Regions from separate parts of the Homo sapiens genome. Here region 2 is linked to region 1. A link means that fine-mapping ties the variant in region 1 to the expression of a gene that starts in the linked region. Tissue or cell type: whole blood. Region 1 holds a variant in brackets; the other region holds the start of a gene. All regions are shown on one strand. Distances are from middle to middle.

Region 1 (5,000 bases):
GAGTCCAATACAGCCAGGTGATCATCTGAACGGGGTACAGGCAGCAAGGCAGAACACCAGGGTTCAAATCCCAGCATTGCAATTTACCATATGAACTATAGATCTTGGAGTCTTCTCTTAGCCTATGGCTTGGGCAGGCATCCCACAACATCCCAAAATCTCAGCTGACTGGAGGACTCATCAGTACTAAGTGTCTGGCCAAAGTAGTGATGATCAGGCTTCATCTTTGAAGAGTCTCTTCAAATTCCAAGCTACTTCCATGGGGGTTATCTCATGTGACCTCAGCCAACTTAACTCTTACAGCCCACTAGGTGCTTGAAGTTCATCATCCCCTCAGATCCCTACAACTGCCTTGGGGGAGTGGGGTCTTATCTCCTGATTTTACTGGTAAGGACACAGCACCCCAGAGACGTGAAGTGCCTCCGCTCTGGTCACACACCTAATCAAGGCCAGAGTTGGCATCTGGATTCAAGTCTCCTGACCCGCATCCAGGGTTCATGTTCCTCTCTCACAGCCACTTACTTTGTCTGCACTGCTCCTTGCAGCCAGCCACTCCTACACCCAGCACTTCTCAGCCTCTTACAGTGGAGGTCCCCCCGCCCACCTCGTCTACTGAATCCACTTTCTCCAAGGTCACCATGACCTGTTATCCATTCTCATCCTGTTCTCTTTCTGCAGCACTTGTTCTGATTGCATTGTTCTTTAGAATTTCCTAACACCGTGCAATCTGGATTCTCCTCCAGTTCTCTGGTCAGTCTTTCACTCATTGCTGACTCCTCTTCCTTCTCCCACCCACCAAATTCAGGTTTTGCCCCTGACTCACTGTTCCTGGGCCATTTTACCATTGCCTACAGCCTCCACCCTTGTCTCTGCCCAGATGACCCTGCACTCTCACCTATGTGCTGGGTCACAAAGTCAAGTTCCAACCACCTGCTGGACGTTGCCACAGGGCCTTCCCTCTGGCATCTCACACTCAGTTCTGTAAGAGCTTGGAGTCTGATGCATGGCTGTCTGGGTTTGAGTCTCTGTCACTTACTAGTTTCGAGACCTTGAGCAAATTATCAAACCTCTGGGCCTGTTTTCTCACCTATAAGATACTAATAACACCTCTCTCATAAGGTTGCTGTGAGAATTAAAGTGAATTAATACTTAACATTCAGAATGGTACCTGACATGCTACATGACCCTTTTATTATTATCCCCACCATATCAGATTTGTTATATATTTTTCACAATCTGGTTGGATCTCCACACTTCTATGAGGAAAATTCATTTTTATCTCCACTTTACAGCTGGGGAAGCTGAGGCCTAGAAAGTTTAAGTAACTTGTTTAAGATCACACAGGTAATATAAGGTCAAACTGGGCTTGAACTTGGGGATCGACATGGCACCAAAGCCAGTGCTCTTACCCACTCTACTTTACTCCTCTTATCTCCTCAAGCTCAAAGCCACAGTCATCCTGGCCTCTTTCTTGCCTTCCCTCACTCAAGCTGTTCTCCTGCTTTACAGGTCAAGGGCCAGGTTCCGACCATCTGACCTTCTCACTCTCTGCCAGCCCTTCCTTCCTACGTCTACTGCCATGGTTCCAGGTCAACCCCTCTTTATAACCTGCCCTTCTAAGGGAGTCTCTCTGTCTCCAGGATTCTTCATTTCCAATCCATTCTTTAAACGGTGGGGCAAATTATAGTCCTAAAACGTAGATCGGAGTGTGCCCCCAAGGCAGAGAACCTGTCTTATTTATGTCTGTGTCCTCCATACTTAGAACAAGGCCTGACTCAGAGTTACGTGGCCTATAAACAGTTGCTGAACCACACTGAGGCCCACTCAACACCTTCCATGCAAAACTGGAAATAAACTAAATGTATAATCATAAGGGAATAAGTATATAAAATGTGGGCTGTATGCCCAAATGGAATATTATTTAGGCATTTAAAATACTTATGAACAGTTTATAATAGTATTAAAAATATTTATTTAATAATACTAAGAGACAGAAGCAGGATATAAAATTATATGTATATCTATATGAAGGCTACAACTAAGCAAATACAGAG[AGT/T]ACTTATACACTGAGGAATGATTATGAGAAGATGTTATTAAAGACTACATGTACTGAGTGTTAACTATGGCCCGTTCGAAGCACTCTTACGGGAACTGACATATTTAATTCCCAAAACAAACTGAGGAAATAGGTACTATTACTGTCATTCTCATTTTACAGATACAAAATCAACAGAGAGAAATTAAAGAGCAGAGTCAAGATTCAACAGCTCCACCCATTTCCCCAAAGACCGGCCCCTTAACCACTGCACCGCACAGCCATCCCCAGCAAATGGCAATTAACTGGGATGTTTGTAGATTGCCTTGGCCACTGGAACACTGAGTTATTGTCTTCCCTTTTTTCATTTCACTACTTTCTATAATGAGCATGTATTCCTTTTTATAACATATTATAAAGAATACAATGCTATAATAAAAACATTCTTCTGATGAGCAAGTAAAATTCGAGTGACTCTGGTCTCCTTAAGTCCTGTCTTTGCAGCCCCTTCTCCCACCGTGCCATCTCCCGCTGCATGCCAGCTCACCTAGAACATACTCTGTACATATTTTCCTGCCTGATCCTGTTCCCAAATGGCTATCTCTAGATCAGGGGTTCTTAACCTGTAGCCTGGGGTCTGTGGGTAGAAGTCAGGGGTCTGTGAACACTTGTGGGGGGAATTACATCATTCTTTTCTCTAACCCCTAAGTGAAATGTAGCATTTCTTTCCATTTTGAATGTAGGCAACAAACTACAGTGTGTTAATAGCACCTGTGACTTTGTTTCCCACAGAAATCACCGCAGTTTTCATATGACACTACAGTGCTAAGGATATCTTCAAATACCAGTTATATTCATTATTACTTCAAGATTATGGTAGTAATTAGGCTCGATGCTATTTAATACATTAATGAAGAAGCATATATATTAGTATACCACTATTAAAATATAACTGCATTTCCATATAGCTGGTTTCCATAGTCACCCTATCCATTTTATTGGATTTTTGTTATTTATTTTCTATCCTTTTTTATTAATAAAAAGGTTTTTATTCATTTAAAAACATTTATCTGAGAAGGGATTCATTAGCATCTCCAGACTACCATGGTCTAGGCTTCTCTTGCCCTTCTGCCTAGCAAACTCCCACTCATACTTCAGCATCCAGCTCAGATCTTGCTCCTAGGCCAGAAGGCATCTCTCCCTCCCTATATTCACAGCACACTGTGGCTCTGAGTCAGCCGCCTTTAGGAGACAGCGCAGCTTCCTTGCTCTCTGAATTCCTGGCCAGCTTCTGTCCCAAGCAGCCTGGTGATGTTGGTTCCCAAGAAAGGAAAGTTTCTCCTGAAAATAAATTCTTATAGAAGGCCACAATTCCTTATTCCCAATTCCAAAGTCCAAAAGGCTCTGAAACTTGATGTTTTTCATCAAACTCAGTTGTTGGCAAAATCTGATCTCAACAGACAGATGTAAAGCTATTTACAATGTGTGAGTATTTGAATATAAGCATGCATTTGTTTGAGTATGGGGTTACTGGAGATTCAACTTTACATATGGTACATGCACCACACAACCGTTCTTTTGTTTGTTTGTTTGTTTTGAGACAGTGTCTCACTTTGTAACTCAGGCTGGAGTGCAGTGGAGCAATCATAGCTCACTGCAGACTTGAACCCCTGGGCTCAAGCAATCCTCCTGCCTCAGCCTCCTGAGTAGCTGGGACTACAGGTGCATGCCACCATTCTTGGCTAATTTTTTATTTTTTGTAGAGATGGGGCCCCACTACATCGCCCAGGCTGGTCTTGAACTCTTGGCGTCAAGCAATCCTCCCACTTCAGCCTCCCGAAGTGATGGGATTTACAGGCATGAGCCACCACGCCCAGCCCCTCAACCTTCCCAATGTCTCAATCTGGATTCTACACACATCAGGCCTCGAGGGTTTGTGGGCCTGCGCCTGCCATTCTGAGCTTCTCATACACGTGTGTCAATGTGTCCATCTCCCTCACTGGATCATAAATGGCCTTGAGATCAGGGGTCATGTCTATTCAGCCCTGGCAAAAAGAAATTGCTCATTAAATGTTTGCTCAACTGAACTGAAATGATCCCAAATGAGTCCAGTGGAACTGAATTAGGGTCTTAGCAGTGGCTATGGCCTGGGGATTTCCTGGGATCTGGGAACTGGTCTTTCGTTCCCTATGAAGGGTGCCCTGCTCAGTAGAGATGGAAATCATTTATAAAGGGTCTCAGCTCTGGAACCCCTGCATGCTGATTCTGCAGGCCTCGGCCCTCTGAGCAGTTTGCAGGAGGCACAGGAAGGGAGGGAGATGCGTTTACCTCTTCCTCCCAGGCAGCAGAGGAGTTGGAAGGCTCAGCTGCTGGAATAAAAGGCCATGATGGGGTGTAGTGGCCCCATGGAGGGACTTCTTCATCTCAAAATGTCAGCACTGGCAATGGATTGGAGACCCCTTAGAAGCCCAGGCTGGACAGGGGTGGTGGGGTGAGGGGCGTCGTGGAACTTACTCCTTTCCCCTTTCCTGCATCTTCACAGGGTCCCTCCTCCGGACAGAGAGCAGTTCAGGGAGGGGAGGGTGAGGCTGTGTCGCAGATGGTTTAGAGGAGCTAATGGTAAGTGCCACTGACTGTAGCCCCCCTCCAGGAAGGAGCAGCTTCCTGGATGGACCCAGGGGGCCAGGTCCTCCTGCCTGACAGTGAGGAGCTGCTCAGTGCTCTCTGGGCCCAGATGGCAAACAACCCTGGCCCCACGGGGCTCACAGAGATGTGCACTGGGGAGGGCTGGGAGAACTCAGAGTCCTTCACACGGAAGCACTTCCCGATGCTGCAGCCTGAATGGAGCAGAGGGTGCAGTCTCCCTCTGAGCCTGTTTATACTGCACAGAGTACACGTGAAGCCCTGGCCATCCTAGGGCAAGGCAAACAATTGCCTCATCACTTCCAAAGAACCATCTCCTCTC
Region 2 (8,475 bases), 300 kb after region 1:
GTAGGGGAAGAAGCTGGGGTCCTACCGCACTCACCAGTCTGGGATGTGGGACAGAGTGTGTGACCTCCTGGGACTCCCTTCCTCATCTGTGGAAAAGGAGATGCCCACAGCTAACTCGCCGGGTAGCTGGACTGACTGAGCGAAACAAACGGAGTACGCAGTCAATACAATGTTACATTGATTCCTTCCTTCCTTCCCATAATTTACCCAGCCTGCAACTGTGGCATAAGTTTTTTGTTCATACTGGATTTACTAAATGTAAGGCATACCCTATTTTATGTAACAGAACGTTATAATCAAGCAACAACTATATCTTATGTCCTTACTATGAAGAGGGCCGATTTACAGGATGTTGAAGAACAGCCTCGCTCTGCTGGGAGTCAGAGAATGTGAAAAGGTGTCAGGCAAAGGCCTTGCTCCTCCAGGAATCTGCCCTCTGGGTGGGGAGACAAACGGACAGACGATTACCAATACCAGGTAGGAGCAGGGGGCTCAGCCAGCCCATACAGAGGGAGAGCAGAAGGCGGCCACTCAGAGAATGTGCCCTCCATACCCATGCAGGTGCCCTTCACACTGGACGAGTCACACTCCCACTCACATTCCATGCTGCTAACCCTCTGAAGCAGGTGAGATTTATCCCCATTTTACAGGTGAGGCCAGTGAGGCTCAGAGTCCCCATTTTACAGGTGAGGGCAGTGAGGCTCAGAGAGGTGAGGCAACTTGTCCGAGGTCATGCAGGGAGTGATGTGAGGACAGGAACCCAGGTCTGCCTGATACTTGGTAGCTGGAACTGGTTCCTCTTCCAGCAGCACCTTGAAGGCTGGGCAATATATGGATGGGAGGAAAAGAGGAGGAAATGCAAAGGGCCAGGGTGAGGACACACAGTGCCAGGGCTGGGTGGCCAGGGGAGGGGGGACAAGATCATGCCAGACACCACGTTGTGACATAAAGTTGGGGTCAGCGTGCAGAGGGCCTTCACCTGCAAGGCATCTTGGAAGGCACTGCCACTGACGGCTGCTGAGACAGGGTCCCCTGTGAGAAGCGTTACCCTCTGTAAGAAGACAGGCACAGCGGCAGGATGGCTGGAAACTGAGGCTGGAGGCCCAACAAGGAAGCTTTCAGGACCGTAACTCAGGGTGAACAGCCAAAGGCCCAAGTAGGGACCACGGCAGTGGGAGAGCAAAGGTCGGAGTGGACACTCGAAGTGCCCAGAAGAACTGAGTGGGCTGAGGCCTAAGGCACCAGAGAGAGGGAAGGAGGGTGCCCCAGGCACCCCGGCTGCATGCCTGGGGGAACCCAGCCGTTCTTTCCACAAGGAGGAGGCAAGAGGCAGTGCCCACTTGGGGTAGGGGGTGGTTGGTTGGGTCTAGGGAGTGGCGGGACACCCAGGCAGCCAGTCTAAGGCTGAGGAGACTACAGAGCAAAGACTCCACCAGGCCTGGGGTGGGGGTGAAAACGGTGAGCCATCACTGGAGAGGGCGAAGGGGATGAACTGAGGAACAGGCAGGACCAAGGGTGGGCTTTCTGAGAACCAAACAGCTGAGACCTTAAAAAGCAACAGCAACGAGCCCAACAGCACTGGACTGAGCGTCCAGGGGCCTGGGACCCAGCTGTGGAGCCTTGGATGAGGCATCCAGCCTCTCTGAGCCTCAGTTTCTGTTGGGTCATGAATGCCTCCTTATAAGGCTGTCTGTAAGGAGCGATCAGATGCTTGCAGGGCTGTAGTAGAGATCAAATGAAGTAATTGTTCTGAGAGGCATCTGGAATGCTGCAGAACCCCATACACACATAAGGGATTAGTACTATGCAGAAGCACCAAGAGATGCATCCTTCCCACACACGCTTGGCGCTGCCCACCCTCGCCAGCCACACAAAGGCCAGCTTCCGCCTCGCTGCTTCTCTTGCCTTCTGAGCAGTCTCTCCCCCAACCCAGGGCCGGTCCCCCTGTCCTCCCTTCCATCTCTGGATGGCTGAGAACCACCTCAGAAGCAGCTGAGCTCCTCTCTCCTGGATGCCCTGACTCCCTGCAGCTGGGACTTTCTCCTAGAGTCTCTGCCTCTCTCCCGGTACTAAAGTTCCCTCTCCATCCTAAGGGAAAACCAAAGTGGAAATCAGACCACGAAGCCGACCCAGGCTCTCGGAAGAATTTTCATTGCTGGGGAAGACAGCAGCCACCGATCAAGATGCCCAGGTAGGGGGATGGGAAAAACACAGAAAACCAAGATCCCCTCTCAACCTCCCCTCCCGAGCATCCACCTCTTCCCCACCCGGAGGGACCAGTGCTGCCTCTGGGTTTCAGGTGGCAGGTCCAGAGGAGGACAGAGGGGTGGAGCTGGTGAGGCAGGCGGGAGGCTGGTGGGCAAGCCCGGGCCACAAGGAATGAACAAAATATGGAAAATTAAACAAACCCAGACACTGTAATGTGTGCATATTAGATTAACTCTCCGAAGGGTCGTGACCTTGAGGAACACATCTGGCCAGTGAGAAAAATAATAAACCTGATTAATGATGAAGCCTGAGCTGCAGCTTCAGCAAATAAAGCCAGCATGATGACGCCCAGTGGAATTCCAGGGGCTGCCATCCCTGGTGGGACCGGAACACAGTGGACCTCGACAAGCCCCTCGCCCCTGACCACGCGAGCACAGACAGTCAGGGAGTCAGGCAGGACCGGATTTGTCTCTCAGATGCCCACTACCAACCCAGGCGGCCTCTCTCCCCGGAGATACCACGCCCGCAGTTTCCCGGTGCTCCTAGAAGTGTCACTACCAACCAGGTGACCCATAGGGAGTGAAAGTGAAGGTAGTTCTTTGTTCCTGGCAGGGCTCAGTCCTCCTGACCAGCCCTCAGACCTCTTGGCCTGGTCTTGACAGCTGCCCACTGCCTGGCAAAAGGGCCCAGCTGTGCTCAGAGCTCCCCTCCTCTTCCCAGACAACCCAGACCCTTGGGAGACATGCCCAGGAGAGCCACTGGAGGGAGGCAGGGAGGTGGCACCGCGTGGCATCACCAGACAACAGCACCAAGAGGAAGATGGCAGCATCAAGTACAGATGCCAAGAGCCACGCAGCCCAAGGTCCAGCCCGGGAGTGGCTCGGCCCGCATTGCCCCACCACTGCCAGGCAGACGGGCCAGAGGCGCCCGGGGCCCAGCCCCCTCGGCCGCCTCCTCCACCACCCCAAGGCCCTCAGCCAACTCTCCCCAGGCTCCAACTCCTCCCCTCACTTTGCTCAGCTCAAGGGAGCCAGGGAAAGAGACACAGGTGCTCTCAGTGCCTTGAACCCCCTGTCCCAGCTGTCGCCTGCACGCCCTCCACCCCAGCCAGGTCGGAGCGCACAGCTCTGCCAGTCCTCACTGAAGAGAATCTAAATCAGCTCCCCTCCCCCTCCGCCCCAGCCCCCTCCCCCATCACGCGCCCATTGCAGGTCTCTAGAGTTTCTCCCTCACTTCCCACTCGGATGAACTAGGGTGGGATGGGTGGGAGCCCCATTCTCCCCGGGAAAGAGGATCATTTCTGATAGGACGCTGGTTCCCCCAAGCAAGGCGGTGTGCAGGGTGGGGGGGTGTGGTGGTGGCCCGAGTCCAGTGCAGGGGCAGGGGGCAGTCGAGGCAGATGGCAGTGAGGAAAGGGGGAGGGGGCTTGGTGGGATGCCAGGCTGAGCCGGGATGGGGGGCTGCAGCCGGGGAACAGAGGCGCTGGGAGAAGCGGAGGGTGACGAGGTGTAGGGGAGACGCGCCAGGCTGGGAAGGGGCTGTCATCCCTGCAGGGGACAGAGGCAGGGCTGGGAGTTGCACGGGGAGGGGGAGGACCAGAGCGGGAGGACCGCGAGCCCGGGGAAGGGATGCGGAGGGAGGGAGACGGACCGGGGTGAAGACTGGAGGAACTACGGGAGCAGAGCGGTGGGGGGTTCGGCGGCGAATCTGGAGACGCAGGGACCGAAGTGCCAGGGACCGGGCTGGCGGGAGGCGGGAGCGGGGAGGAGGGCGCGGGGGCGGGGGCCGGGGCAGGGGTGCGGGGCCGCGGCCCCCGAGGGCAGGAGCGGCGGAGACGTCAGAAGTCGGGGTGCGGGAAGGGCCAGCGCGGAGGGGACTCGGGGGCGCGGGGGCAGCGCAGGGAGCGGGCCGGGGGCGCCGCGGGGGGCCGCTGCCCTTACCTGGTCGGCTCCGCACTCCGGGGGCTGAGCCGGGGGCCGGGCGCTGCCGGGCCGGCCGCGGGGCTGCTGTTGGCCGTTTTTCCTCTTCCGCAGCAGCCGTGGCGGCTCCAGCCCGATCCGCCCGCAGCTGAAGGCAGTCTGTGTCCGGCTGCGAGCGAGCCCGGCGCGGGGAGCGCGGGAGGAGCGCAGCGAGGCGCGGGGCGCCGCCCGGCGGGCAGCTGGGGAACTGCTGCGGCCCCGCGCACGGCCGGCCGGGGGGGCGCCCCTTCGGGGCCGGGCCGGAGCCCCGCGGGCAGCTGCACGCGCCCCCCAGCGCCCCTCGGAGCGTCGCCCGGGAGCCCAGGCGCGGGGGCGGCGGGGGCGGCGGGAACGGCGGGGGCTGCTGCGGGCAGGGCGGGCGCGGGTCCGCGCGGCCGGGGGCAAACTTGCGGCTGCCCGGGGGCCCGGGGCCGAGCGAGAGGCGCCCGGCTGGGGAGCGGCGCCCGGCAGAGGCTAGGGGCGCGCGGCCAAGCGGGCTCTGCGAGGTACGGACCTCAGGTGGGGAACCCGGCGCAGCCCGCACACTCCACCGCCCTGCGCAAAGGGGCAGCCCGCCCCGGCCCCGAGGAGTTATTAGCCCGGCGGCTTCAGCGAGCAAGGGGCGCCCCCTGGTGGCATTCGGGAAACAGCGCGGGGGACGAGCGTGCCCCGTTAGAAGAGACTGCGGCCTCAGTGGTGCGGAAGATGGAGAGGTGGAGGTTTCATGGGACGAGACAAGAGCACCTTGTTCAGGAGACTGAAGAGCAACAGCTTGCATGGAGTCATTCCAGAGCACTGTTGTATACATACCAACATCTTGGGAGGATCTCATGTTACGCATGAAGATCCTGAGGCTAGGAGAGGTGAAGGGACCAGGCCAAGAACACACGGGGAGCAAGTGGCAGGACCCAGGAGGCAACCCCGCTTTCTGACGCGCGGTTCATTTCAGTACACCGTGTGGTTCATCCTAATACAACAGAGTTGCCCTTAGGAGGAGGCTGGGTGAAGAGGGAGTCCTGGGGGAATAGGAGGGAGGGCAAGGGACACGTGACCCCCTCAAACCTATTAGCTCCCTCTTATCCAACCCGCAGAGTCTCTGTCTTGGGCAGACCACCAAACTGATCACACCGGCCCTCTCACCTTCAATGGCCTGTATCCCCACACCCAACCACCAGCACTCCCACAATCTCATTAAGCTCTCTGTGAAGGGTTTGTTCACAGACGTCCTTGGTCAGGTCTCACGCATGAGGCATACTATCGGGACTATAGACTGTTCTGGACGTTGCATTCCCCGGGGAGGGCTGGCTGGCTAGCCTGGGCGCGTACTGGGCCTCCTGCTTCAGGAGTCGTGCCTATCCCTCCCCCAGCTCCACACACTGGCTGGATGAATGCCATATGCGAACAGGGCTCCATTCCTCCAGCCAGACATTATTTAGCACCTACTGTTTGCCAAGACTATACCGCTTACACAAGTGTGATTCCCAATAATCAACTTTGCAAGGTAGGTGTTGAGGTGACACTAGTCCCATTTTACAGAGGATGTTAAACCTGTTAAGGTTTAAGAGCACCTGTAAGCCAGTGACACAAAACTAATTTCTAATTCCAACTCTATTCCCCCACTCTGGAACCCCCTCTCTTGTGCAAAATGGACGGAACAGCAGCATAAGCCTAGCAGAAAGTGTACGGGGCTGGGAGGAGGGAGAGGCATCCCTGTGATCCCAGCAAGCGATTTCACTTCCCTGGACTTCAGTTCCCATAACTCTAAAAGTGAGGGAAGCAGACTAGATGATCTCTCAAGCCGCGCAAACTCTGAAATGCCAAGCATGGATCCCTGGCCCCTTTCACGGGAAGAATGCAAGATCAGCGAGACCAGAGAGGCTTATTAAGTGTTTGGAAAGAAAAATACTATATAAGTGAAATGCTTCATCATATTCTTTTGCCTGGTGATCTCATCCTATTAACCAGGGAAGCGGGGAGGAGCTTTTGGCAGGTCAGAGAGATTGCTGATGGCTCTGGAGATAGTCTTGGCTGTGGCCTCCTGAGGGCCCTGGTTTCTCCCCTTCTTGCAAGAATGGTTCTGACTTTCTTTTCCTTTCTTAAGGCCTCTGCCCCTAGAAGCAGGGAGTCCCTACCAGTCACAGGGTGGACAACAATGTCAGCGAAGTCTGCCGGTACAGAAGTCTGCTGTTAGCCTCAGCCTGGTTGCCCCCACCCACTCTCCTGTCTCCCCTTGCTGCAAGATGTTGAGTTCTTTGGGATACTTACTACTTGCTCTCCACCTTTTTTACTACTGAAAAAATTCAATTCCAGGCAAGCTGACTTCTCAAGCTCAGCTCCAGGGGTGGGAAGGTCAGTCCAGATCTTTTTTGGAAGCCACAGGGGGAGAATGTCAGAGGGCCACGAGGCTGGCCCCGCTGATCTACTCTGAGGCTGCTGCCTTGAATGAAAAAACAGAAGGGTTGGGAAATGGGGCTCCCACCTCTAGAACCTCTCATCTGAAACATCCCTCACAGCCAGCTGCTATGCTGTGCAGGACGGATAGGATTCATTGTGCTTGGGCGCCATGGTGGTCGGAGCGCACAGGAAGGAGTTTGTTCTCTTGGATTTATCTTTAATTTCTTCCATCTATCTGCCTCTGGTATATCCACTAAGAAGAATATTTGATCTTAAATGTACCTGCCATGTCTTTTCCGAAGGTCCCTTTGAAGGTTCATCACACATTCATAATGATCCCTCTGCATAAATGGGGCCAGCTGAGGCACACGGTGAGCAGGTGACTTGTTGTCACCTTGCTGAGTGGCACATATCATATCATGTCACCATGTCTTAGAAACTATTGCAGCGGCCCTCTAGCTCATCTCCCTGCCTTTAAATTGGCTCCCTCCAATATGTCTACAAATGGCTGCCAGAGTGATGTCTCTAAAACAAGCTTCACCACTTTACACCCTTGCTGAAAACCCCTTCATGACCTCATATTGAGTCCAAAACTTTTTTTTTTTTAAGACGGAGTCACTCCTCTGTCACCAGGCTGGAGTGGAGTACAGTGGCGGAATCTCGGCTCACTGCAACCTCTGCCTCCCGGGTTCAAGCGATTCTCCTGCCTCAGCCTCCTGAGTATCTGGGACTACAGGCACCCGCCACCACGCCCGGCTAACCTTTGTATTTTTAGTAGAGATGGGGTTTCACCATGTTGGCCAGGCTGGTCTCCAACTCTTGACCTCGTGATCTGCCCGCCTCGGCCTCCCAAAGTGCTGGGATTACAGGCGTGCACCACCGCACCCAGCCTCGAGTCCAAAACTTCTTAGCACAGCATACAAGTTCCCTGCTTACTTCCCCACCTCACCCATCATCCATTTCTGTCCATCTCACCTTCAGTCAGTACCAAGCAGCACTGAGTTCTCTGCTCATCCCATTTCATACCTCTGTGCCTTTAACACACTGAATTCTGCCCAGAGTCCCCACCCTACCTCCCACATACACACTGATACACAAGTTCCTATTAACCGCTCAGAATTCTGTTTGGGAACCTCTCCTACTAGAAGTTTATCATACCTGGCTATCTAGTCCCTTCCCAACAGAAGTAATTACTCCCTTCTCGGGATCTCTCTTGTGCTTGTTAGAGTTTATGGTCACTTACTTGTTTCACGTCTGCTCTCACTAATAGACTGTGAGCTTGTTCTCCTGGATTTATATTTTAGCTTCTCCCTTCTTTGTATTTGCCTCAGGTATATCCGCAAATCAGATATTTGATCTTAAATTTACCTACCATTTCTTTTCCAAAGGTCCCTTGAAGGTTCATCTCAAGTTCATAATTAGACTATAGGCTTTTTAAAAAATCTCTGGCCGGGCACAGTGGCTCACACCTGTAATCTCAGCACTTTGGGAGGCCGAGGCGGGTGGATCACCTGAGGTCAGAGTTTGAGACCAGCCTGGCCAACATGGAGAAACCCTGTCTCTACTAAAAATACAAACTTATCCGGGCGTGGTGGCATGGGACCTGTAGTCCCAGCTACTCAGGAGGCCGAGGCAGGAGAATCACTTGAACTGGGGAGGCAGAGGTTGCTGAGATCGTGCCATTGCACTCCAGCCTGGGCAACAAGAATGAAACTCCAGCTCAAAAAAAAAAAAAAAAAAATCTATTAACCACACAGTGCTTGGCATAGGAGATTCTTAGTAAATGTGTTGAATGGATAAACCAATAGAGAGAAGGGGTTAATGAGGTCTACAGTTCTGGCAAATCGGATTTGCTCCTGTCATTTGTCCAGATGAGTCAGATGAAATCCTAACTGGCAAATATGAAACTGTGCCC

The links. PIP is the estimated chance that this variant, and not a neighbour inherited with it, causes the effect.
Region 2: it holds the start of GRIK4, and the variant in region 1 is fine-mapped to the expression of GRIK4 in whole blood (TOPMed, PIP 0.97).

The regions. Positions count from the first base shown.
Region 1 is chr11:120,808,697-120,813,696 of GRCh38, reverse strand. The region is part of intron 4 of GRIK4 (glutamate ionotropic receptor kainate type subunit 4); the gene reads right to left. It overlaps LOC105369532 (a long non-coding RNA gene), which reads left to right. Exons shown (of 3, transcript NR_133008.1): 3 at 2,219-2,352. Among named protein-coding and RNA genes, the nearest start is that of TBCEL, 210 kb to the left of the region's middle. The variant AGT/T (reference allele first, on the strand shown) is at 2,055.
Region 2 is chr11:120,507,561-120,516,035 of GRCh38, reverse strand. GRIK4 (glutamate ionotropic receptor kainate type subunit 4) reads right to left here and starts at 4,288. Exons shown (of 21, transcript NM_014619.5): 1 at 4,149-4,288. RefSeq lists silencers at 4,218-4,417, 4,598-4,677.